2 separate regions of the Homo sapiens genome follow, and region 2 is linked to region 1. The links come from fine-mapping of genetic effects on gene expression. A gene starts in region 1. The other region holds a variant in brackets. All regions are shown on one strand. Distances are from middle to middle.

Region 1 (12,154 bases):
CCTGTTTCACCTGGGTCCCTTTCCTCTCTACACACCTCATACCTTGTACTTGTGTTCCCTCCAAGATGGTTTCGAGTTCTTAGAGACTCTCAAGGCTGTGGCCCAAGATAACACTGAAAACCCAGATCTTAGCATCATCTGGATTGACCCTGATGACTTCCCCCTGGTAAGAGGCACAGCTCAGGCACTGCTATCTTAAGGTGGGGCCTTGGACTGTGACATCTTCTTAGTGAGGGCTTTGTTTCAGAGGTCCCATCCCCACCTCCTAGCTGGGGGGCCCTGGGAGGGTATGCGTGTTGCATGCTTAAGGGCACTGTTGGCATGGAGGGCATCCTGAGCAAGGGGAAACAGGACGGACATCACACACATTCCCAGAGCAGAGGCTGGATGGGTAGCTCAGGTGCTAGGGCTGACTCCTAAAGAAAACCAATGTTGTGAGGCACAATAGTCCTGCACATGGGTATACACACTCAATCATAGAATCATAGCACAGAGATTCCCTGTTTCAGGAGATGATTTTGTTCTCAGCTACATTCCCAACACCTAGCACTCGCTGTTGAATGAGTAACTGAAAGAACAAAGAGAAACGTGAGAAACATTGGCACTTACCAGGTATACTTGCCTTATTTTAGAAATGTAAGATCTGAGGGCCAGAGAGAAGTGACTTGACCTTGAACACAAGGATCTGATCCAGGATCAGAACAGGGTTTCCTATCCAGTTTTCCTCAGAAAAGAGGGGCCAGTGCACCCAGCTGACCCTCCCGATTCTCTCCCTTTAGGATTTCTCCTCTTTTGTTGTTTAGTTCTACCCTTGCCTTGATGCCCTCACAGGTGGACCTGTCCCCATCCACTGCCAGTTCGCACTGTCCCCTCTCCATCCCTGGGCTGACCCTCACACTCATCCTCCTGGATTCATGTGCTCCCTAGTATCTATTAAGTTGCTGTATTTTGATCTCTCTACAGCTGGTCCCATACTGGGAGAAGACGTTTGACATCGACTTGTCAGCCCCACAAATAGGAGTCGTCAATGTTACTGATGTGAGTTTCCTGTCCTCATCCCGGGTTGACCCCCGACTCTACTTCCTAGCATAGCTAGCTCTCCTCCTCTCTGCTAACTAGGAGTTGGGCCCTTCTCACAGGACGCAGACATGCCCAGTCTAGTGGCTGGATGGAGGGGGAGACTTAGGATCTGAATGTGGCCCTGTCCCACATGTTGGAATCAGTGGCTCATCCTTCAAGGCCCAGTTCAAATTCTTTCTCCTCTGTGAAGTCTTTCCAGATCTCCCATTTAAAATCATTCCCTCCCTGGCACTCCCAGGGCTCAATAGCCATTGAGAACATGACATTTAAATGGCTATTTATGTATTATGTGTGTCTCTTCCAGTAGATTTTTGAGCTTGTTCAGGGCAGAAGTCTTCTTATGCACACACAGTAGGTGCTTCAAAACTGCTAAGTTGAACTGAATGAGCCACAGTCTCTGCTTTCATAGAATTCTCAGACTAATTAGAGAGGCAAGTGTTCCATTAACTACAAGGCCAGATCTGATAAACTTTATAATAACGATACAAATAAGACACAGGATCACATTGATTTCTGCTTGACAGAATCAGAGAAAAGTTTAAGAAAAAGTGATATTCAAAATGGAGATTCTACAATGTATACGATTTCAACAAGTGATGATTCAGGGAAGTCATTTCCAAACTGAGGAAAAAGCAAGATCAAAAGTTAAAAACAGGAAAATGAATATCAGGTTCCCGGAAAAGGCAGGTGGATTTTTATGGTTGAGAGTCTAGAGATCACTGAGAATGGTACTAGAAAAGCAGGTTATGAAAAGCCCTGGGGCCAGGGTAGTGGCTCAGGCCTGTAATCCCAGCATTTTGGGAGGCCAAGGTGGGAGAATCACTTGAGGCCAGGTGTTCAAGGCTGCAGTGAGCCATGACTGCCCCTCTGCGCTTCAGCCCGGGCAATAGAGTGAGACCATGTCTCTTTTAGAAAAGAAAGAAAGAAAGAAATGTCCTGAATGCCGAAGAGTTGCTAACTTTATTCTTATAAGCCATGAAGAGCTACCAGTGGTTTTGCACCAAAGGCATAATAGGGAAGTTCAGTGTGGCAAGAGCACGGGAGACAGATTGAAGGGAGAAGGTCTATTTGCCAATCCAACTTTTCTTCCCACTCTCACCTGTCACTATTCTAACCCATAACCCATACCTTCACCTGGACAGTTTCCCTGGCCTTTGGCAGATGAAAGGAAGGGACTGAGAATGTAGGGAAGGATGTACAGAGTCCAGTGAGTGGGAAGACAGATCCTAAGACCCGGGTTGGACTTAGCTTCCGTCCCTGCCTGTGCCATCTCCTAGGCGGATAGCGTATGGATGGAAATGGACGATGAGGAGGACCTGCCTTCTGCTGAGGAGCTGGAGGACTGGCTGGAGGATGTCCTGGAGGGCGAGATCAACACAGAGGACGATGACGATGATGATGATGACTAGTTGCTATGGCAACCATCTTTCAGCCCCACTGGTCTTTTCATGCTCTCTCCTGCCTTCCCTTGTCCTTCCCTGAGTTCCTCCAGGGAGACTAGGTTATTCTCTGCCATAGAGCTAACTGGGGTCTATATGCTGGGTGCTGAGACACTGATCCCCCTCATTTGATGAGCAAATGAGCTACTTTTCCCTAGACACCAGGCCAGCTCTCTCTTATCTGACTTCTGTTTCTTATCCCATAACTTACTTGTATCTATTATGTGTCTCTTCCATCACTCTCCATACTCTTTCTTGTGATTCTCCTCTAGCCATATATATGGGCCCCATCTCTGTTCTGTTCCCTCCATCTATGCACAGCTTTCCCCCACTCTCTCTAATCCTGTATCTTTCTGACTGTCCTGTCCTTGGCCAGAAGGAAGGGAGAATACTGTGTTTGGGACTGTATCTCAGCAATCACTTGTTAATGTATTTGGGTCAAATGAGAGGCCTCAATAAAGACATCTGGGGCAGCATGAACAAGTGTATTTTGGTGAAGTCTCACCCCTATGGCAGGAGGAGGTGGCCACTGATGGGGAATTCAGATGTGGGTGCCTTGCTAGGGATGAGCTGGGGGACTCTTATAGTGGGGACTGGGGTTCCTCCAGGCAGCTTTCCCAGAGAAGCCTGGATTGTTAATCTGCTTCAAGTCAACAAGCCTTTTCTGAACACATGGTGTTTGTCCAGGGCCACTGTTAGGCTCTGGGAGAACAGAGAGTGCTAGGCCTGTCCCTGATCTTGAGCTGATTAGCCTCACGGAGAAGTCAAGACAAGCATACTAAACAATCGAAGAAGAATACAAAGCAATATGTAATTAAGTGATTATGTGCTGCTCGATAGCACCCTCTCTGCAGCTCTTATTTGAACATCAAGACAGAGCTCCAATTATACTTCCTTGGTGAAGCCTTCCCAGAGGTGGCCCCTCCAGTGATGACCTCTTCTGAGTTCCTGCTGCACTTCCATTCCAGTACTCAGCACAGTCTGTTATTGTTCTTCATTTACGTGTCTGTCTTCCCCACTCAACTGTGAGCCCCTTGAAGGCAGGAACCCAAGCTTTTTCTTTGTGTCCACAGGGTCTGACACTCAAAAGTTGTCCCTAGTAAATGTTTCCTAAAGGAAGAACAAAGGAAAGAACAGAATGAACTCAGAAGAGAGATCAGAGTGGGCTTGATGACTTCACAAAGGAAGTAAGCCTTTACTAGGCCTTAAATTGAAGAATGGGATTTGGTTGGAGACAAAGGAGCTGAGGAGGAGACATTTCAGTCAGTGGAAAACATCAAGTACTGGCAGGATATGTTTGTCATATTGGGGGCACAGAGACCAGAGAGACAAGAAGAAAAATCAAGTTGTGGCCATGAAGTTGGGTAAGCATAATGGGGCTGGGTTGTAGAGCTGTTTGAATTGAATCCTGCCAGCCGAGGAGGCAGGGCAAAATTTAATCTGGTAGCGATAAGCAGGATGGGGAGGGGAGATGATGGAGATGCCAGAGGTAAGGGGCCCAACCCATAATCAGTGACTGTTATAATAATTGGAGTGATGTTGGGAGAACATGGACCCAAGTGGTGGCCATGGGAATGGAGAGGAGATATTGTATACAATGGGGATCTCCCAGACCTGGGCCTGCTGGAGGTCTTGGCAAGAAGGACCCACAGTCTTTCCAGAATAGGCCCAGGCTGGGGTAAGCAAAAAGGAGTTTAGGGAGTTGGGGATGGGAGGGCCAAATAGCTAAATAAGCCCATAAATAATAAACATATACATATATAGTTTTGAGATGATGCCCATGAACAATAAACATTTTATATATATAATATATACAAATAGCTAAACAAGCCCATAAATAATAAACATTATATATATATTTTTGAGATGATGCCCATAAATAATAAACATTATATATATATACATATACATATATATGTGTGTGTATATATATATATTTTTTTCTTTTTTTTTTTTTTTTTTGAGATGGAGTCTCACTCTGTTGCCAGGTTGGAGTGCAGTGGTGAGATCTCGGTTCACTGCAACCTCCGACTCCCGGGTTCAAGAGATTCTCCTATCTCAGCCTCCCAGGTAACTGGGACTACAGGTGCCCACCACCACACTCAGCTAACTTTTTTGTAGTTTTAGTAGAGATGGGGTTTCACCATGTTGGTCAGGCTAGTCTTGAACTCCTGACCTCAGGTGATCCACCTGCCTCAGCCTCCCAAAGTGCTGGGATTACAGGCGTGAGCCACCACGCCAAGCCAACATTATATTTTTCATGGATCAGGTGTAAAGTTGTTGCTGAGAGACTTAGAGGATTTCTAAGTACGGAAAGATGAGACCTGAGATTAGATATATTTTCACTCTCCACAGACAAGTCCAGGAAGTGTTCCTAGAGAATGTGGCAGGGGTGTAGAAAGCAGAAACTATGTATTCATTCCAACTTGTAGCTATTTAATAAATGTTTAATAAGTAGTATGGGCACTAAGCTAGTCTTACAATAATATTGTGGAGCTTACTGTCTAGCATAGGTCAGTGGAAGGCCCCGGTCTAAATAATAGCTCCTATTTTTTAAGCACCCATCTGTGCCAGTCCCTAGAGACTTACTATTTCTGAATCTCAGAAGAACCCTCAGAAATAGACATTGGCACCCTGATCTGACCGGTGAGGACACTAAGGCTTTCAGGCATAACTTGCCCAAGGAATGGGTGGAACTAGCACGCAGCCCAAGGCCCCTGTGTCTTGTTGCCTCCAGACCTGAGCCTTTCACTTAGAAACTACATGAGTCTCAAAGATGGGTCAACGAAATAGTTTTTGTCCCTACAACACAGAGCAAACATGATATATACAAAGGCAAATGATTAGTGTGTGACAGGGAATGCTGGGGAGAGGAAACAGCAGAGAAATGCTATGAAACCCAGAGCAGCAGGAACTTGGGCCTCTTCTAGGAATGGTGTAGACCCAAGAAAGGAGGGGCTCGTTTGAGGTTTCTGGAGGAGTCTCTGCCAGGTAGGAACTGAGATGAGATGGGTGATCCTGGAAGTGGCACAAACACTGAGGGGAATCCCCCAACCTGGGCCTGCTGGAGTTCCTGGCAGGAAGGACCTACCCAGGGTCAGACTTCTTTCCAGGGCCAAACCCTGCCCAGAGCTGAGGCAAGACCCCTTAGGCTATAGAGATGGGGGTGAAAACAGATGCTTCTCCAATTCTTCCTTTCCTCTTTTCAGTCTGGCTGAGAATCTGGGGGAGGAAAGTCCCTGGGGTAGAGGGGAAGTGAGAGCTGCCACATTGGGCCTGGGCAGAGGGGCAGAGCTAGGAGATGGAGCTAAGTGTGGCTTTGCAAGTTGTCTATATTTGCATGCTGAGCTCACTGCTGCTCTTTTTCTCCCCAGAAAATAAAATTACATCATGGTAGGGGGAAGGCAGGAGTGGGGCATGTTTGGGAAAGGTGAGAGGCACGCAAGAGGGCCTGAAGGCATCATCCTGGAAAGAGAAGATCCAGGGCTCCTCAAGTCCCCATGTGGCCCCAACCCCTCACTCCCAATGTGGATAAGTCTGATCAGTCATTTTCCACTGCGCCCCTGACCCTTAAGGCAAGGCAAGAAGTTTTTACAAATATTAAAGCCAGCAGCTAAGAGAATCCAGCCCCCAAAGGCTTTCCAACCCCCTAAACCAAACCTACTCTGTGCCTCCCAGGGGTCCTAGGCACCGTGGTCATCCAAAGGTCAAAAGGGGAGGAGGGTGCCCTACTGGGTAAGAATTAAATATGAGAATTGTTTCGCAGTTCAGGGGGAAGAGACCGTCTCCGCTCCAGCCCTCCGCCCAATTCTGTCCCCCATCCTAGGAGTCTTCCAGAACCCCAGCCCCTCGGTCCCCCGCCCCCTCCTGCCTCTCCATCCCTCCCCCTCCTCCCGCCATTCCCCGCCCCCCGCCCCTCCCCGGCTCTGACATCACCGGCCAGCCGGGTGGAGTGAGCGGCGCTGGGCTCGGGCTCCGGCTCCGCGGGCGGAAGAGGCGGCGGCGGCGGCAGAAGCGGCGGCGGCGGCGGCGGGAGCCGAGGAGGAGGTTCCGGACGCTGCTTAGGAACCGGGGACTCAGGAGTGCCCGCGCCCTGAGCGCTCAGCTCCAGAGGCGGTGAGAGGGGCGGAGAGGAGACATGTCGCGGGGAAGGGGCAGATTTCGGGGTCTAGGCTTGGAGGGGCAACGATCTGGGACACCGGGGGCCAGACGGGGAGTGTGGGGACCCCGGACGAGTCCACTTTGTGTCAGGCCTCACGGGGTCCGTCCCTCGGTCGGTGCGTCCCGAGCGCCGAGCGTGTGCTGGAGGCGGCGTGGCTCCGGCCAGCCCGTTCCACGCTGAACGGCAGTTTGGGAGTCGGACCGGGGCCTGTGGATTAGGATGCAGCCTGCTTCCCGCCCAGCCGGCTCGGCCAGGCCAGCGCCCGCCCCTCCCTCCCCGCTCAGGCTTCGGACTCGCCTCCGCTGGCGGTCTCCCGGCCCAGCCCTGTCTCGGTTCCGCGGGCGGCTGGTACCATGTGCCCTCACCCCCAGCTCACTGCACCTGGGGAAGAGGTGGGCTTGGCGGAAAGCTTGTCCAGAGGGAAGGAGGAGCTGGGGGTGTAGAGAAGTGATGTATATCTAACGTAAAAACCCTTATTAATTTCATATAATCCGTGTCAAAACTGACAGGGAAACACGCACACCTATAAGGCACGCCAGCACACACAGTGACACACACCCATGTGACTTATACACATAGTCTAGCACACTCCAAATCACAAACGTCCCTGGACTACGCATCCGGCCGCCCACCACACCCCCACTCTGTGGGGTGGGGCATCCCATGAGGAGTCTTCTGAACTGCGGGCTCCAAGTCATCAGTCCGACAGGACAGCTGAGTGGACAGAAAGGGCCACTGTCCCCAAATCCATCCTGATTTTCTGGCAGCTTTTCCCAGCCCCATGGTTTCAGATTGTTCCTCTTTAAAACTGTGGGGAAAGATGGGAGAAAATCTTGGTCTCATTCCTCTAACACAAGGAGACAGGATTTTGCGGACTAATGAGGGTAGGGGCTTCTGGTGGCTTCTCTTCCTGGGTCCAGTTAGGGCTTAGCGTGCTGGGAGTGGCTAGTTTCTGGGTAAGAGTGGCCAAGGGATGGAGGAGGAGGGGGTGGAAGAAACGGAGAGGAAAAAGAATGGGTATGAGTCAGCCAAGAATGGAACCCAAGTCAGAGAGAGAATGAGAGGAATGTGTGTGAGAAGCAGACAGACATCTCCAGAGAGGTCTAGAGATAGTCAGGGAACCAGGGAGAGGGAGGAAGTGAGAGAAAGAGATGGTCAGAGAAGTGCAAACAGTGTTTGAGAGTGCACTAAACAAATTAGGGAGGATGAAGGTTGGGGGAGACCACTGGGAGTTAGGGAAAGTGGTACGTGTGTCTGGGCCCCAGGCTGTCAGAGCGATTAGCTTTAATTGCTCTTCCCTTTGTGGTTAAATACTCCATTGGGGAAATTGCCAGTGATGCCCTAGGCTGCAGGCTTCCCTGGTTGCCTACTTCCTCAATTCCGTGCCCATCATGTGTGGATGTATTATCATGCATGAAGAGGGTCACAGAATCACAGAGCGCCTCACTCTCTCACACAGATCCTCACGCACAATGTCATGATGGATATCTTCACCAGCTGGTAGGCAGCCAACCACTGAATCTCCAAGCCACTCCGACCAAACTTACTCTGTCTTTTGTAGCAGGGATGCTCACCCCTTCCTAATTGCAGCTCCGAATATTCAGATGGGGACAGTGAAGCACAGATCTCAGGAGTCCTAAGTATTCATGGCTACCACTAAGTTGGATAGGTGAGTAGGAAATGCTAGAAGGGGTGAAAGCCTATAGAAAGGAGGAAAAGAGAGACTGAAAGATGAAGTAGAAAGGAAATGCATGACAAAGAGTGAGAGAGATGGAGAGAGACAGAAATAGAAGCAGGGAGTGCCACACCAGAAGAGTGGAAACAGAGATGGGCTGGGGAGAGTCCTAGGCCCCATTCCCCTCCTCGCCATCAGCCGGCCCTCCTCTGCTCTGCCTGATCCAGTGCCAGCTATCTCCTGATGCCCCATCTTGGGTCTGGCTCTTTCTAGACCAAGGGCTGAAGGCTAATCCTTGTCCCCATGCCCAAAGGTAATCCATTTTGCTTCTTGGACTGAAGTGAACATTTTAGGGCCCAGATGTCCTGCCTCTCGTCACTTCCAGGCTGACCCTGGAGCCTCAGAACCCTCAATTTCCTTGTTACAGGAGTAAAGACAACCCCCTCCTCCCCCACAAAGCTGGATAAAAAGCTTAAAGAAGAAATTAATTGAGAATGATATTAAAGGAAATAAACTACAGGACTGCTTGAATTTGGGGCCCAGTTATAATTTAAAATAGGAAAGCTGGACCCCTACTCTCTCCCTTCCAACCCCTCTGCCTCTCCGTGATTACTTCCAACTTCAGGCAGAAGACTGACAGACTTGAGTGCCTGGGAGTCCCCTCCTGCCCAATACAGGGACCTCTAGGTCCTTGCAGCTGTCTGGGATGGCCCCTCCCCTCAGGCTTAGGCAGCTGCAACAGATGTGGAAGAGGGACGGGCAGCAACTCTTAATCTTCAGGCTTCCTTCTCGAATTTACAGAGGATTTGGAACCAAACGTTAGAAGGGATAATCTACCACGACTTAATGTCAAAATGCACAGAAATTCTTTTGGTGCTGCCACCTCCTCCACAGGTGGTTATCCCAATTGCCAGGCTTCTCAAAGCACTCCCAGGGCCTGGCTCTTCTTACCCCAGTGCCCATGGAGCTCCCACCTGTCCCACCCTAAAAGGTCAGTATATAATGGTCCTTACCTCCTGCCCCTCTTCCCCAGCATCCTCAGTTGGTTTGACCTTTGTCAGGGCTGTGCCTGGGGCCAGCTTGGAAGGAGAGGGAGGCAGGAAGGAAGGAAGGTGTGAGGAAGCGGTGAGCCTAGCACAGAAAGCTGGGAGGGAAGAGGACTGACTTCCTGGCAGCCGGGGCTCCGGTTCCTGATTCCTGCCCTGGTATCCTGTCCCAAGAATGGCCTCCGCCCAGACTGCCTGGTGATCCCTGAGCAGCTCTCTGCACTGCTCCAGAAATCAGGAGGATTTTTCAGAGCCCAGAGAGCAGATTTCTCCACGAGCCCTAAGGAAATCTGAATCTCTGGTGAGGAAAGTGACATGGAGGATGAAGGAAACAAGCTCTGCCAAGCCCCACCATGGCCAGGCCAGACCAGCCCAGGTACAACTGTTGATCAGTGAGAATTGAGAGCAGTTCCCCTAAACAACACTCCCTTTGCTTCTTCTGCCATACTAAGGCCTAGGCAAATGGATCTCTCCAAGAAGGGAGGCAACTGGGCTGCCTTTCCTTGTACCGTCAGGGGGCCTTATTCCTATCCTTTCTGTCCCTTCTTACTCACCATTCCCTACACTCCTCCCATCTAGTGGTGTCATCCTAACGACTGGGGGTGGGGGGCACCCAGAACTGAGGTTGCTATAGTAACAGATGAGATGAGGCTACAGCCTTCTATAGTTGTGGACTGTATGCTCTCCTCCCCCTCGCCCCCCATGCCTCATTTGCAGCCTTAGTCTCTTTCTGTCTCCCAACTCCAGCTCTCTTTCTCCATTCTGTAGGCTCCCCTCACCCCTCTGGATGTGAGCCTGTGGTTATATGCCTTCTTACACATGCTCTTGGCTGGTTTAGACACATACAAACACACACATGACAGATACTCACAGCCAGTGCACCCACAGCCATATATCCAGTGCTGGCACATACACCTCCATTACCAGAACATCCAAACACACCCACAGATACCCAGCCACTGCCTCCTCCAGAGCTGTGCCCACAACCCGGGGATTAGCATCCATAAGATCCGAGCACACACACATTTCTCCTCTGCCACTTTAACATTCCTACCCCCATCTCTCTTAGGGGCCTCCTTGTATCTTTCACTCTCTTAGAAAGCTCCTACCCACTGCCCCCAAGTCTTTGTGGGTGAGTGTGTTACACACATTAATCTCTTCCCGCCTACCTCCTCTGTAGATCTGTTTTAGATTCAAAGCCCTAAATCTGAACTCCTCCCGACACACACACACACACACACACACAGACACACACACAGATGCACTCTTTCCTCCCGCAGGATCTGTAATATTTACAAACTCTCCTTCCATATGAAAGCAGGGAAGTATAACCCCCAATCCTGCCCCCTTTTCCAGCTGAGGGCTTGGCCCCAGAGTTTCCTCCACTGGGGCAGGGTCTTCTTGTCTCCTGCTGCGCTTTCCCTTCCAGTTGTACTCATGCCCCCCTACTCATTCTTATCTCCATCTCTAGTCCCCTCCCCATCATCCCCCTCACCCGTACCCCCCTCCTTCTGTCCTTGGATTATCAGTGAAGTGAGGGGGGTTGGGCTCCAGAGCTTGCTGCTGTGACCTAGATTTCAAGGCAGAGACAGTTCCTGGTGCTGACAGTCAGAGAGCATTGTTCCTGGCCCGGCCTGGCAGGGCCACTGCTGGGCCCTTCTGTCTGGTTGCACCTGGGTGTGCAACTGAGCATGCCTATGACTGCCTGTTTCTTGCGGGGGTCATGGTAGCCCTCCTGTCTGGCTCATTGTCTGCCTGTGTCATGGTGCCTGCCACCAAGGGAGGCTTGTTTATTCTGGTCCAGGTAGGGGGCTGGGAATGGGGACTTCTGGGTCTGTATCTCTTATTTTGTGACCACCATGCCAATCTCAGTTCCCCTGCAGTAGAGCAAGAAGGAAAATGTGAATGTGTCAACCAAGCCCCTTTGATCTGCCACATTCCCAGCCTAATGCTGGGGTGATTTGCAGGCAGCCTCCGTCAGGGACAAGGTCATCTTGCTGCTTGCCCACCCCTTGGTCTAGTCGCATACAGAGTGTTTATGATACAATTTACTTTTTAAAACATGCTTTACTTTTCTGACTAAAAGGAAATAGATACTCATTGTGGAAATAAGTTCCATTTTTGAGCTTACCACTAGTGTCACATTTTATCAAATCCAGAAAGTCCATTCAAACATCTGACCTTCTTTCTTCTGTCTTAGCCACAGTTCCTATCTTAGTGGAAGGAAGGCCTTGAATGTTCTCTACTTCTCACCTAAGGATCATGAAAGAGGGATAGGGTGAAAGCCTAGGTGAGATCTGGCCTTGCTGATCTCATCAGACCATGCTGAAGGTAGTGCCAGTAGGATGTTGATACGATACGAGAAGGGGGGGCAGTCCCCTTTTGCCATTCTCCCAAAGCCGCATCTAAAGTCCCCTCCCCCCACCACCCAGCCAGCCTGGGAACTGGGCAGGGGGCCAGAGCCAGTTGCTTGGTATTCTTGGGCACGGGGGCTGCAGGCACAGCACAAAGGGTAGGAGAGAGAGCTGAGTGGGGGCCTGGTAACCATCAAAGGAGAAAATGGGCTCCACAAAGGTGGGGGTGGTCCATTGCTTCCCCCACCTCGAACCCTAATGACTGAATACAAGGCTAGCATGGTGGGGCCAAGGAACCATCAGACCAAGCAACTAGGCATCTATCCAAAATGAGTCATTAGTGGGGTGGTGGGGAGTTGAAGTGAGGGACCCCTTTGCCTTTGAGGCAGAATGGGGAA
Region 2 (12,154 bases), 88 kb before region 1:
CTTGACTTTCAGGCAAGAGTCCATTGCATTGGACCACGGTGGGGACTGTGAGAGGACAGGAGGGAAAGCAGAGGCACAGAATAGCCCAGGCCTTCATGCTCCTGGGAAGGGTTGACATGGGTTCCCTGGGCTACACCATGGGTCCTTTCCTTTTTCTCCCTTGGGACTTCCACGTGAAGAAGGCACAGGCAGAACACAACATGGAGCTATCTGAATCCAGAGAGAAGTAAGAACGAAAGGAGGTGGGAATGCAGCACAGGCAGAGGCTGGGGAAAATGCTTCTGGGTGCTTTTACATCCTATTTTCTAAATTCTATACAGTGTGGTTTTAACAATAAAGAGGATAATAAAAATACTCTGGGGAGAGATTAAAATGACAGAACCAGCTGGGTGTGGTGGCGCATGCCAATGGATGCACAACTCTGGAGGCTGAGGCAGGATGACGGCTTGAGCCCAGGAGGTCGAGGCTGCAGTTGATCATGCCGCTGTACTCCAGCCTGGGTGACAGAGTGAGAATCTGTCCTTTTTTTTTAAGGGAGAGAGAAGAAGAATTGTTTTTTTTTGTCTGTTTATTGTTTTTTGTTTGTTGTTGTTGTTGTTGTTGTTGTTTTTGAGACAGGGTCTCACTTCGATTGCCCAGGCTGGAGTACAGTGGTGCAATCTTGGCTCACTGCAGCCTCTCAACCTCCCTGGGCTCAGGTGATTCTCCCACTTCAGCCTTATGAGTAGCTAAGACTACAGGTGCATGCCACCACGCTCAGCTAATTTTTTCGTATTTTTATTAGAGACAGGTTTCACCATGTTGCCCAGGCTGGTCTTGAACTCATGGACTCAGGTGATCTACCCACCTCAGCCTCCCAAAGTGCTGGGAAAACAGGCATGAGCCACCGCGCCCAGCCAGCAGAGATTTTTAGAATCTACTTTGAGTAGACTGAAAAGAAAGACCATGTTGAAGGAATGGTTTAACAGATAAAGAAAAAAAATAAGATAAAAATAAAAGAAAGACCAAAAAGAAAACGGAGGAGCAGATGTTAAAGGAGAGATGGGGAGAAAATTCAACACCATCCTTGTAGTCCAGTGAGGAAACTGACACAGCAGCAGGACTTGGACAGCCACTCTGGGGCTCTGAGCCCAACCTTTTTATTTATTTATTTATTTATTTATTTATTTATTTATTTATTTATTTTTGAGACGGAGTCTCGCTCTGTCGCCAGGCTGGAGTGCACTGGCACGATCTCGGCTCACTACAACCTCCGACTCCCTGGTTCAAGCGATTCTTCTGCCTCAGCCCCCCGAGTAGCTGGGATTACAGGCATGTGCCACCACTCCCAGCTAATTTTTATATTTTTAGTAGAGACGGGGTTTCACCATGTTGGCCAGGATGGTCTCAAACTCCTGACTTCATGATCCGCCCACCTCGGCCTCCTAAAGTGCTGGGATTACAGGCATAAGCCACCCCACCTGGCTGATCCCAACCTTTTAACAGGTCACTATAACCTGAGGGAGTGGGAGGACAGAGGGCTGGAGAGGCAGGGAGAGTGAGAAGTCATCTTTCTTGGACACTTGTCATGGCCAGTCCAGGCCTTCCCGGCTCCCCTCATCTCATCCCCCAAGGTGGGCTCCCTTTGGAAGCAGAAAAACTCCACCCACACTCCCAGAAGACCTCAGAAGCCTGATAGCAGTGACAAGACCACAGGCCCTAAAGAAAAAAAGAAAGGAGAGTTAGAGGGAATGGAAGAAGGAGAAGAAGGAGAGATGCCCAGAGGGGGGTTGGCAGCCGAGAGGAGGACCAGAGGAGCAGGGCTGGAGAGCTGGGCCCAAATCAGGACTGGGGGAGAGAAGTGGGGTGCCGGGGCGGGAGGAGGGACGATGGGGGTGATAGAGCCTCCCAGCTCTTCCTTCCCTCCCACTCTCCCTCCTCCTCTCTCTCTTTCATGATCTTGAAACAACCTTCAAGTCTGGGCTGGAGGCCCCAGGAGGCCAGTCACTTAGGAAACAAAACTGTTTCTTGGAGACCTTGAAAGCCCATCTGCAGCTGAGCAGCGTCCCCACCCCCTCCCTGTGCACACACACATTCTCCCATGGACTCTCACGTACACCCACACCCGGCTTCACATGAGCTCCCCAATGGCCCACATGCACGCACACACGGACTCCACACTTGATCTTAGCCAAAAGGCCGAGAAGCGATGCGCACTCACGGACTCACACGCACCTCTGTACTCATGCTTGCATACAGACAACCGATTCATAGCAGATTGGCCACACATCCGAATGAGTGTTGTCCTCTCCCCTGAGGAGCTCCTCCTTTGGAATGTGGTTTGGTACCACCACTCCGTCTCATACCTCACACAGGACCCAACGCTCAGGTCCTCCCAGTCATTAACTAGCACACATCTGTACACAGGCACATGCACACTCCTGTCTCTCTCCAACTGTCTTGGTCTCTCTCTCTCTCTCTCTCTCTCTCTGTCACACACACACACACACACACACACACACACACACACACACACTTCTTACCAACCAAATATTTGATTCAGGACCACTCCATCCCCACTTTGCCCTTGGTGGATCCCCCTCCTGATCTGTGACTTTCTCAGCCCACTCCCCAGCCCAGGCATCTTGGCCTTCCATCCTCCTGCTTTCAAGTCTTTCTTTCTCTCTCCTTTGCTCCTCTTACTCCAAGGGCCTTGATCCAAACTGGTACTGCTGACTGTGTCTGAAGAAACAGTAGCCCAACCCAGGCACTCCAGATCAAACGATCAGGTGTCTACACCTGTTAATATCCTGGAGGCTGAGGTTCATGGTGGACAAGAAGGAGGTAGACCACTCCAGAGCCTCAGCTCTCACTGGGCAAGGAGGGTGGTCAGTGATGCACGGTGGAAGTATAGGCCCTGGGTGTCCTGCCCACTCTTTGATTTCTCTGAGCCCTAAATATGTGAGCAGCAGCGCCCCTCGGGCTGTGCTCTCGCCCAAATGCAGGGCATGGCAGGGAGCCCCAGCAGGCTGTAGGGGCAGAGGAAGGGCACATCCTTTCCGGTATTGAGTTTGGCCACAGGGACCAGAGCCAGGGCCTTTGGAAGGACTGGGCAGTACTGGGAGGTGCCAGCAGGGGTGAGGGGTGGGATGAAAACTGTTAGAGTGCTTGAGGTTTGCACACCTTCAGATTCGGGGACTGACGTTTTCTCTCCTATCTCAGGTTGTGTTCTGGAGAGGGCTGGGCAGAAGATTACCCAGGAATTCCAACCCAGGAACCTACGGAACAGGCGCTTCCTAAACCCCAATTTATCATGTTGTTCCCACAGCCCCCAGGCAAGCCTGCCCCAATGTTGATCTCCCTAGCTGCCTCGGGGCCACTCTGGAGTGACTTTGCTTTAGACAGTCTCTCCTGGTGTCTAACCACAGGCTTTCCCGCTACTCCCCTCTCACTCTCTCCTTAACACACAGGGGCTGAACTGGTATCTGTTCCCTTCATTGTTTCCTCCCTCTGCCCATTCTCTCCCAAGACCAAATCTGAGCTCGGAGAGGGGGGCCATGAGAAGGCCCTGTTGGCCCCATCCTACCCACCCTTTCTGACTGTAACCCAGAGAGGGAAGGAGCGTGGAAGTGAGATGTGACCTACCAGGTCCCTGTAATGGAAAATCTCAACTGCAGGCCCGGAGGGGGCCAGTTATTTAGGGAATTCAGATGTTAGCCTTGTGCCCTGAGAGTGGATTTGCTAGAGGAGAGGCTGATAATCCCTCTGCAGGGAGTTCCCTCTGGGGCCAGAGATGGACCCAGCCCAGCCAGCAGGCACCTTAGGCCTCTGGCCAAAGCCCCCCTTCCCTCCCTCCCTTCCTCTCTGCTTTCTTTGCACTCAGGACACTTAGACCTGCCCCACTCCGCTGGCTTCCCCTCACTCCATCTCTGTGCCCAGAGAAACAGGGGTACTCCAGGGGAATCCTGTCCTCTGACTGTTCCCAGTAGAAGGCGGGAGCAGAATTTTTTCTTTTCTCTCTGCCCCTTCTGGGTTCCCCTTCCTCTCTGTGCCCCTCATCCTTTGGATTACTCATCAAATGAGCAGCAACAACACCCCTAGACCAGCTGGTCCTGTCCTGGGTCATCTCGTTGTCCCCAGTTTCTAGCTGGTATAAGGTTAAAGATACCCTTTCCAGCCCCAGGCAAAGCCTTAGGCATTTCTGGGATTGCTCCTGACTCTGATGGGCATCCTCACTCCTCAGACATTTCCAATCTCCCCCACTTCACTGCAGAGAGGCCTGTTCTCCAGCCTCAGTCCTGCATGCTGCAGCTTTGCTTCCCCTTCCCCACTGGAAGAAGGAAACAGTCGCTCTCCTTTCCCGTTCACATGTCTGATATTTGCTATGATATTGACCTTCACACACATCTTAGAGGTTCTGTATTTTCCTCTCTTTTGACTTCTCCCTATCACTACTCTACTCAGGCATAGATTCAGTCTAGAGCTCTTCAACAGCAATGAAACGGTAAACGAGGGGTAAACAAAACCCAGAGATGTCATCAGGTGCCTGCTAGGAGTCCCACCCGTTCCCCTCTAGCCCTGGCCTGCCCCTCCCTACCAGAGTCTTGATTCTCCTTCAAAACTTTGGAGAGGTTACATCTGGCAGGGTTTGGGGACACCCTCTTGCCTCCATCTCCAAACTTCCCGCTGCCTCCCGAGCCACCTTTGACTCCTCCTGGGCCCCCCTTCCAGGTGCCTCAAGTGCAGAGGTCAGCCTTCGGTTCAAATTCTATTTCTGGGCTTCAGTGTCCCTGCAACCTCTATAATAGAAGGAACAGAGTGGTCTATGTTTCTTTCTTTCTCTGGGAGATTGGATGTAGACTCGGGAGACCTGAGTTCTGGCTCTGTCTTATCAATTCAAATTGTTTAATCTCTCTGAGCCTCAGTTTACCCACTTGGAAAAGAAGAGTTAGGCCACATGGTCTCTGTCATCCTGGGATTCTGAGTCAACTGCTCCCCTTCAGCCAGATCCAAGGGGGCATATCCCCCCAACCTGGGACCCAGGCCCCCTTCCCTTGCAGCCTCTCTCAGTTGTGAGTGCCACAGGCCAGAGGGGGTTGAGAGGAGCCAAGGGGGGGCATGCCGTGGGACAAACGGGCTGTCTAGGGCCAGTGGCTAAAGGGGCGGGAGGGGAGGAGTCCTCAGGGATCC[TGTTTCAACAAAC/T]GTTTCTTTCGGAGGAGGGGAAGGCGGGGGAGAGGGGGAGAAGGACCTATTTAAAGCTACCCTGTTGCTTTGGCTTTCTCTGTCTGCCAGGGTCTCCGACTGTCCCAGACGGGCTGGTGTGGGCTTGGGATCCTCCTGGTGACCTCTCCCGCTAAGGTCCCTCAGCCACTCTGCCCCAAGATGGGCCGTGGGGTGAGTATCCCTAAAGAGCAGGGGTCGCAGTCTAGAGGGTGAGGGAGGCTGCTGAGGAAGGATGAAGTGGGAATGGGATGTGGAAGGAGCGGGAGAGAGGAGCTGAGTGGGATACTTGGAACTTGAAACTAACAGTCTCCAAACTACCAATGTGTGTACAGATCCCACGGCGGTCACATACCCTAGTGCTCTCCTCTCCTCTGCACGCCCCAGCCCCCTGCCCACAGTTAGACCCACAGCCCACCACACATGCCCCCTCCATCTCTCCCTCCACCCCACTCCCACATCTCTAGTCCTTCCCTGCAGCAGTCCCTCCTCTCACTGCATCTCCCGGCCTCCCAGCTGAAAGGATGTTTGGCACTGTGAGTCCTCCTGTCTTTGCCACCTCCTGAAAATATCCATTCCTCTGGGAGTCCTAGCCTGAGAGGCTGGGGGTCCATTTTGAGGTTAGAGAGGGGCAGTAGAGCATCCGGCTCCCAGAGTCACCAAGTAGTTCCGGACACCAGCTCCAGGGGCCCTGAGTGCCAAGGACAGCTGGGCGGGGTGTGGGGAGGAAGAATGATGACCCAGCCCCCACCCCAGCACCCCTCCGGATGTCCCGAGCAGCATTGTCCGTGGGTTCCAAGCCATGGGCTTTGAGGACTTTCCCAGAGGCTGGTGACAGGTGACCCCCCCCCCAGTCCACCCGTCCATGGCATTCTGCAGCAATGGCTACACCAAGAGGAAGATTAACAACAATGGGGCGGGCAGGGAGAGGGCTTTGAATTCTTGGAAATGAAATTCCCATATGGAGAAGAGTGGCCCAATCCTTTTACATGCTGTGCCTGGCTGCTTTCCTTTTGTGGAATACTGGCAAAAGAGGACACAGAGGGAAAGGGCATGCTGCGGAACAGGAGGGTATGAGGAAGACTGTGCCTAGGGGGAGCCGTGGGTGTTTCTGGGCCCAGGAGGAGTCAGGCAAGGACATGTTATTGCACCTAGTTGAGCAGCTGGGAAATCCTGAGCCTGGACACCAGGGTTCCTGAGCTAGGGTTGGAGCCATAAATAGAATTGGAGTGCATGCATGTATCTGTGTGTCTGTGTCTGTGTGTGTGTGAGTGTGTGTCCTTGACCACGTGTTCTCCATAGGCGGGGAGTCCTGCAGTTACTCATGGATGAGTACCTGTGTTTGTGTCTCAGCAGGCAAATTTGTAAATGTACAAGCCTTCAAGCCTGCACAAGCATAAATGTCACTGTGTGGGGGTGCTTGAGAGTCTGTGAGCCTGCCCTTAGGAGCTGTGAGGTATGGGCTTCACGGAGGAAGAGGTCATAGCTGCAGGAAGATATACTGTCTTGGGACCTTCAGCTGCATCTTGACATCTCTGGCTCCCCATGGAAAGGGCATCCCTAGCTGAGATGCAGGACCTCTGAGAAGAGGCAGGGGTTAAAGGATCAGATAAGCCCTCCATTTCCCCCATCCAAGTGAAGAGAGAAGGAGGGGAGGTAGCCCCCTACCCTGCTCCATCTTAGAGCAAGGTAGACCCAGCTCAGGAGGTCTTGCTTGGGAAGTGATGAGACCTTGACTTTTCCAGTCTGTCTTTTTCCCCTAGCACCCCCAAACTCCCCTTAATCACCATCCTAAGTTGCTGTGGGTGATGCAATAGCAAGATGAGGAGCAGATCTGGGCTGTTTAAACTAAGAGGCTGGGTGAGGTGGGGGTATTTAGGGCCTGGAGCTTAGAGTTCAACCTACCAACGACCCCTGAAGAGGGAAGGCATCTGACACCCACAACCTGTTCTAGGGATGATTTTTCCTCCAATCCCTTCTCCCCTGCATCTCCACTGCAGAGGCAGGCTTCACTGTCCCCCCATTACCCAGTGGCTGTGAAGGGCAGCGTGGGAGTTGGGGGAAGGGACGACACTGGTGGGAGGGAGCCCAGCCTGCTCCAGCTACCACGGAGAGGCTGAGATGGGGGGAGCGTTGGCGGATTCCCAGCTGCCCCCACTCTGTCCCAGCCTCTGGCTTTCTCAAAAAGGACTCTCTGTTCTCCTTCAGCATTCAAGACCCAGAGAGGGGGACTTGTGGTTGGGGGAGGGAGGAGTGGAGGGAGGTTGGGGGGGTCCTTGCTTCCTCTCTTTCTTTCTTGCCTGGGCAGCCGCTGGCCCCAAATCTCTGCAGGCTCCTGGCTGCAGAGCCTGAGATCTTTGCCAGGACAGGAGGAGGGGGAAGGGGCAGTGTGTCTCAAGCTCTAAGCCTGCTGGAGAGCAGGGCGGGAGCTTGGGAAAAGGAGGCACTGCGTGGAGCTGCTTAGCTCAGCCACAATCCAGCATGCCAAAGTGCATGGACCAGCAAGTTTTTAAAAAGCATGCATTTTATTCCAATTTTTATGAAATTTATTTCACATCTGAATATACAGAAATTCCTCTGCACCCTGCTCTTCTGCCCACAGACCCAGCCCTGCTCCTCTGTGTATGCCTGGGCCCCCTTCTGTCCCTGAAGTTCCTGAGGGTCACACTGAAGCTCAGCCAGCCTGATCTCTTGCCTCTGTTCCCTTGATTGCATTTCTTCCTTTTCTCAGCTCTGTCCCACCACAGACAGTTAGTGAATGTAAAGCATTTCAATCCACTCAATTAAATGAATCCTCTTAGGTCACCTGAGAAAGGCAGAGGCAGAACCACTCACAAGCCTTTCCCCACCCCTTCCATTGGGCTGCTCGGTCTCCCCAAGAAGATCTGCCTTTAGGAGGCCAAAATTATACCAGATTCATAGATGCTTCAGGTGGAGACAAACCCACGATTTTACTGGTCACCTTTTCTGAGAAGAGCACTTCTGAGCAACACAGCCTCCAAAAGCTCATATCTTTTTAAATCATTGGTATCTTGGGAACAACAGTGTTGACTTCTCCTTGCATCCCCCACCCCTACCCTTGCTTCTGATTGTACTGGTCAGACTTCTACCTCTCAAGATGCTGAATTGGCGACCTCTTATGAACAAGGCAGCTGCCATACTTCTGGGATTGCTCCTGACTCTGATAAGTAAAAAAGGCATTACCCTGGAGCACAAAAGTCTTAGGGCAGTGAAGCTATTCCATATGATACCACAATGGCGGATACACGTCAGTATACATTTGCCCAAACCCATAGAATGTACACCAAGAGTGAACTCAAACTTAAACTATGGGCTTTGGACGATAAAGATGTATCAATGCAGGTTCATGATTGCAGCAAATGTAACACTCTGATGCAGGGTGTTGATAGTGGGTGAGGCTGTGCATGTGTGGGGGCAGGAGATATATGAGAACTTTCTCTACTTCCCACTCAATTTTGCTGTGAACCAGAAAATTGCTCCAAAAAAAGTATATTTTTTAAAATGCAAACAAAACCCCCAAAACTGCATTATCCTGCAAAAAAAAAAAAAAAAAAAAAAAAAAAGCAAACACCTTGGCTGTGGACCCTACCCAGGTATCCACTCTTTATGGGAAACAAAAGTTAACATCATAGTGTGGGAAAACTAATTCCTGAAAGCCTAGTGCAGACTTTGCAGAATCCAGTGGAGAAATAGGCACCAGGTGGAAACTGAGCAGCCCCTCTATGACAAGGACTCTATTTCCTGAGGGAAGTGGGAGGAGAGAAGACTGGGGCAGAAGAGGAAGTAAGAAGGTACCTTTTTGGGAACTTTTCATGGCTACCCAGGCCTTCCTCAGCCTCTATCCTATTCTATCACCCCAAGAGGGCCTCCTCTTAGAAGGAAAGATTTCCCACCCTGTCCCCAAGAAGTTCCCTGTGAGACCCTGGAAGGCTGGTAGTGGTGAGCCCACAGGCCCTGGAGTGGAAGGGAAATCAGGAGCCTCATAAGACTACAATTAAAATGTCCATCTGCTCAGGCGCAGTGGCTCACACCTATAATCCCAGCATTCTGGGAGGCCAAGGTGGGAGGATCACTTGAGCCCAGGCAATATAGTGAGACCTTATATCTAAAAAAAAAAAAAAAAAAGAAAGAAAGAAAGAAAATTGTTTTAAATTAGCTGAGCGTGGTGGTGCATGCTTGTGGCCCCAGCTACTTGAGAGGCTGAGGTGGGAGTATTGCTTGAGCCCTAGAAGCGGAGGGTGCAGTGAGCTGAAATTGCACACTGCATTCCATCCTGGGTGACAGAGTGAGACCCTGTCTCAAGAAAAAAAAAAAGGCCATCTGATTCACCAGATGACCCAGGAATGTCTAGACTTAAAAACTATATAAAATGTAGTTTTAGATTTACTCTCAGATACAATTTCTTATGTTTTGGGACAAATGGGGCTCAGTTCCCATGTTACCCAATTGTGCTTTGGGGGTCCAGTCCTGTGAGTTGCCTCCCGTCTAGTAACGGGCAGGCCTGCCCAGCAGGATGGAGAGGGCTCCCAGCACACCCCATGTCTCCACTTCCTGGACATGCCCTGACTCTCCAGCTACTGCCTCCTCTCAGTCCATCAGGCCTGCTCTTTCCATCCCTACCATTCCACCACCAGACCTGGCTCTCCTCTGGACACGTTCCTGCCTAATCCCCTGGCTCCCCAAAGACTCTTGCTCCCCCAAGTTCCTGAGTATTTCTACCCCTCTCTAAGTAAAATTGCCATGGTGTTGGGCTAAGACATTCCTACAGAGTGATTCTACTCCCTCAACAACCCCCCACAAAACCCTGTCCACTCCCTTCCAGAATTTTCCCAAATAGTGTAGGATACAGGTTTTCAAAATTTTTGTTTTGTTTTGTATTTAGCAGCAGGGTCCTTTCAACAAACAAAATCTTAGCAGAAGCCCAAGCATTAAACCACTCAAGTGGTGCTTTTCAGTCCTGAGCCCCTCACCCTTCTCTGAAACTCACATGGGAGCCCCTGGTTCTGCCAATAGTCTACAAACTGAGGGCCTAGGGTCCCTCACCCTCCATCCCCCCTATCTCCCCCAAGGCAGCCGCTGCTTTTGAACACACACCCCCACTGCCTGGGCTCCCTGGCTGAGTGGTGGGAATGGAGGCCCCAGCCCCTCTCTTCCCTGACTCTCTGGCTCTCCCTTCCTCCCTCAGGCTGGCCGTGAGTACTCACCTGCCGCCACCACGGCAGAGAATGGGGGCGGCAAGAAGAAACAGAAGGAGAAGGAACTGGATGAGCTGAAGAAGGAGGTGGCAATGGTGAGGGAACTGCTGGGCCATGGAGGAGGGGCCCCATGCTGGGAGAGCTGTCCCTGCAGCCCATTGCACTCAGAGAAACTCCGTGTCCCCCATGCTGCTCAACTCACCCCTGTGCCCTGCAGTACCCTCATATGCATCTTAGATACCTCCTCCCCAAAGTAACTCACCCTCCCTTCCCCAGGATGACCACAAGCTGTCCTTGGATGAGCTGGGCCGCAAATACCAAGTGGACCTGTCCAAGGTGAGTGGAGGGGCTTCTAGGGAAGGAACAAAAGAGGCAAGAAAACCATGCAGCATCAAGGTGGCAGGAGCCTTAAAACTGTAATCCAGCCTTCTTTACAGATGAGGAAACTGAGGCCCAGAAACAAGGACTGGCCCAAGGACATGCAGCTAGTTGGTGGCACAGCCAGAACTAGAATTTGGATCCCCTGCATCCTAGCCCAAAGCTCTCTCCCTGTATACCCTAGAAGCCAGGACTCCCTATGACCCAGGCCCCAGAGGGCCTCCAGGCAGGGCCCTTCCCTATACCCCAAGCAACTTCAGTTGCACACAGCCTTCCACAGAGCTGACAGCTGATGCACATGGGCTGACAGCCCATTCCTGTGGTTACAGTGATTTGCTGGGCCCCTGCTACATATGTGACATTGTGATAGATGCGTTACATACATTTCTCTAATCTTTACAACAACCCTTTGAGATAGGTATTGCAGACCTGTTTATTAAACAAAGGAGACTCAGAGAGGGAGAGTAACTTCCCAAGGTCACATGAACAGTAACTGGTACAGTCAATTGCTAAGCCCTTCAATTAAAAATTTGTTTAAAAATCATTAATCAAAAAATGCTGGGTGTGGTGGCTCATGCCTATAATTTTACCACTTTGGGAGGCCAAGGCAGGCAGATCACTTAAGGTCAGCGGTTTGAGAGCAGCCTGGGCAACATGGCAAAACCCCATCTCCACTAAAAATACAAAAATTAGCTTGGCACAGTGATGGGCACCTGTAATCCCACCTACTCGAGAGGCTGAAGCAGGAGAATGGCTTGAACCCAGGAGGCGGAGGTTTCAGTGAGCCGAGATCATACCACTGTACTCCAGACTGGGCGATAGAGTGAGACTCCATCTTGAAACAAGCAAACAAACAGACAAATATTTAGTGGGTGTATATCTCCTTTATGGGCCTTCCCTGACTGCTCTTTCTAAAATTCTATGCCCCTATTCCTTTACCTTACTTTATTTTCCTTAGTAACACTTTTCTATCTGGCACTAATATGTATTTGTTTATTGTGTGTCACCTCTCCAGATCATAAGCTCCTCAAGGGCAGGGACTTTGTTGGTCTTGTCCATCTCTGCATCCGCAGAGTGACAATTGTGCCTGGCACTGGATATACATTTATTAAATGAATGAATGAATGAAAAAAAAAAAAAAAGAAACGGTCCCTGCTTTAAAGGAGCTCAAAGTCTAGTAGCAGAAAAAATGCAATCCTAGGATTCCAATGCAATATGGTGAGTGCAGCTCTAGAATCAAGTATAGAACACCATGGGGAACCAGAAAGAAGCATCTGAACCAGCCTGGGGCTGAGGGAATAGGGCCAGGCAAGGCTTTCTGTGGAAAGTGACAGGTGATTGCCAAAGTTGTGTGACACTGA

Which allele goes with the higher level. Alleles are on the strand shown, and positions count from the first base shown. SD is a standard deviation of normalised expression in the study named.
For the expression in tibial nerve of the gene that starts at base 6,497 in region 1, TGTTTCAACAAAC is the low allele of the variant in region 2 and T is the other (small effect, 0.31 SD a copy in GTEx).

The links. PIP is the estimated chance that this variant, and not a neighbour inherited with it, causes the effect.
Region 2: its variant is fine-mapped to the expression of PEA15 in tibial nerve (GTEx, PIP above 0.99).

What each region holds. Positions count from the first base shown.
Region 1 is chr1:160,198,888-160,211,041 of GRCh38, forward strand. It overlaps PEA15 (proliferation and apoptosis adaptor protein 15), which reads left to right and starts at 6,497. Exons shown (of 4, transcript NM_003768.5): 1 at 6,497-6,635. CASQ1 (calsequestrin 1) reads left to right here. Exons shown (of 11, transcript NM_001231.5): 9 at 66-166; 10 at 964-1,038; 11 at 2,358-2,999. The coding sequence ends at 2,489. PEA15-AS1 (PEA15 antisense RNA 1) reads right to left here and starts at 9,982. Exons shown (of 5, transcript NR_123725.1): 1 at 9,957-9,982; 2 at 9,370-9,500; 3 at 6,451-7,489; 4 at 6,184-6,247; 5 at 3,312-3,629. RefSeq lists enhancers at 5,703-5,802, 6,153-6,202, 11,202-11,868 and a silencer at 6,353-6,612.
Region 2 is chr1:160,110,501-160,122,654 of GRCh38, forward strand. ATP1A2 (ATPase Na+/K+ transporting subunit alpha 2) reads left to right here and starts at 5,259. Exons shown (of 23, transcript NM_000702.4): 1 at 5,259-5,373; 2 at 10,406-10,510; 3 at 10,692-10,751. The coding sequence starts at 5,362. RefSeq lists enhancers at 1,519-2,138, 2,139-2,758, 3,379-3,997, 4,750-5,533. The variant TGTTTCAACAAAC/T (reference allele first, on the strand shown) is at 5,170.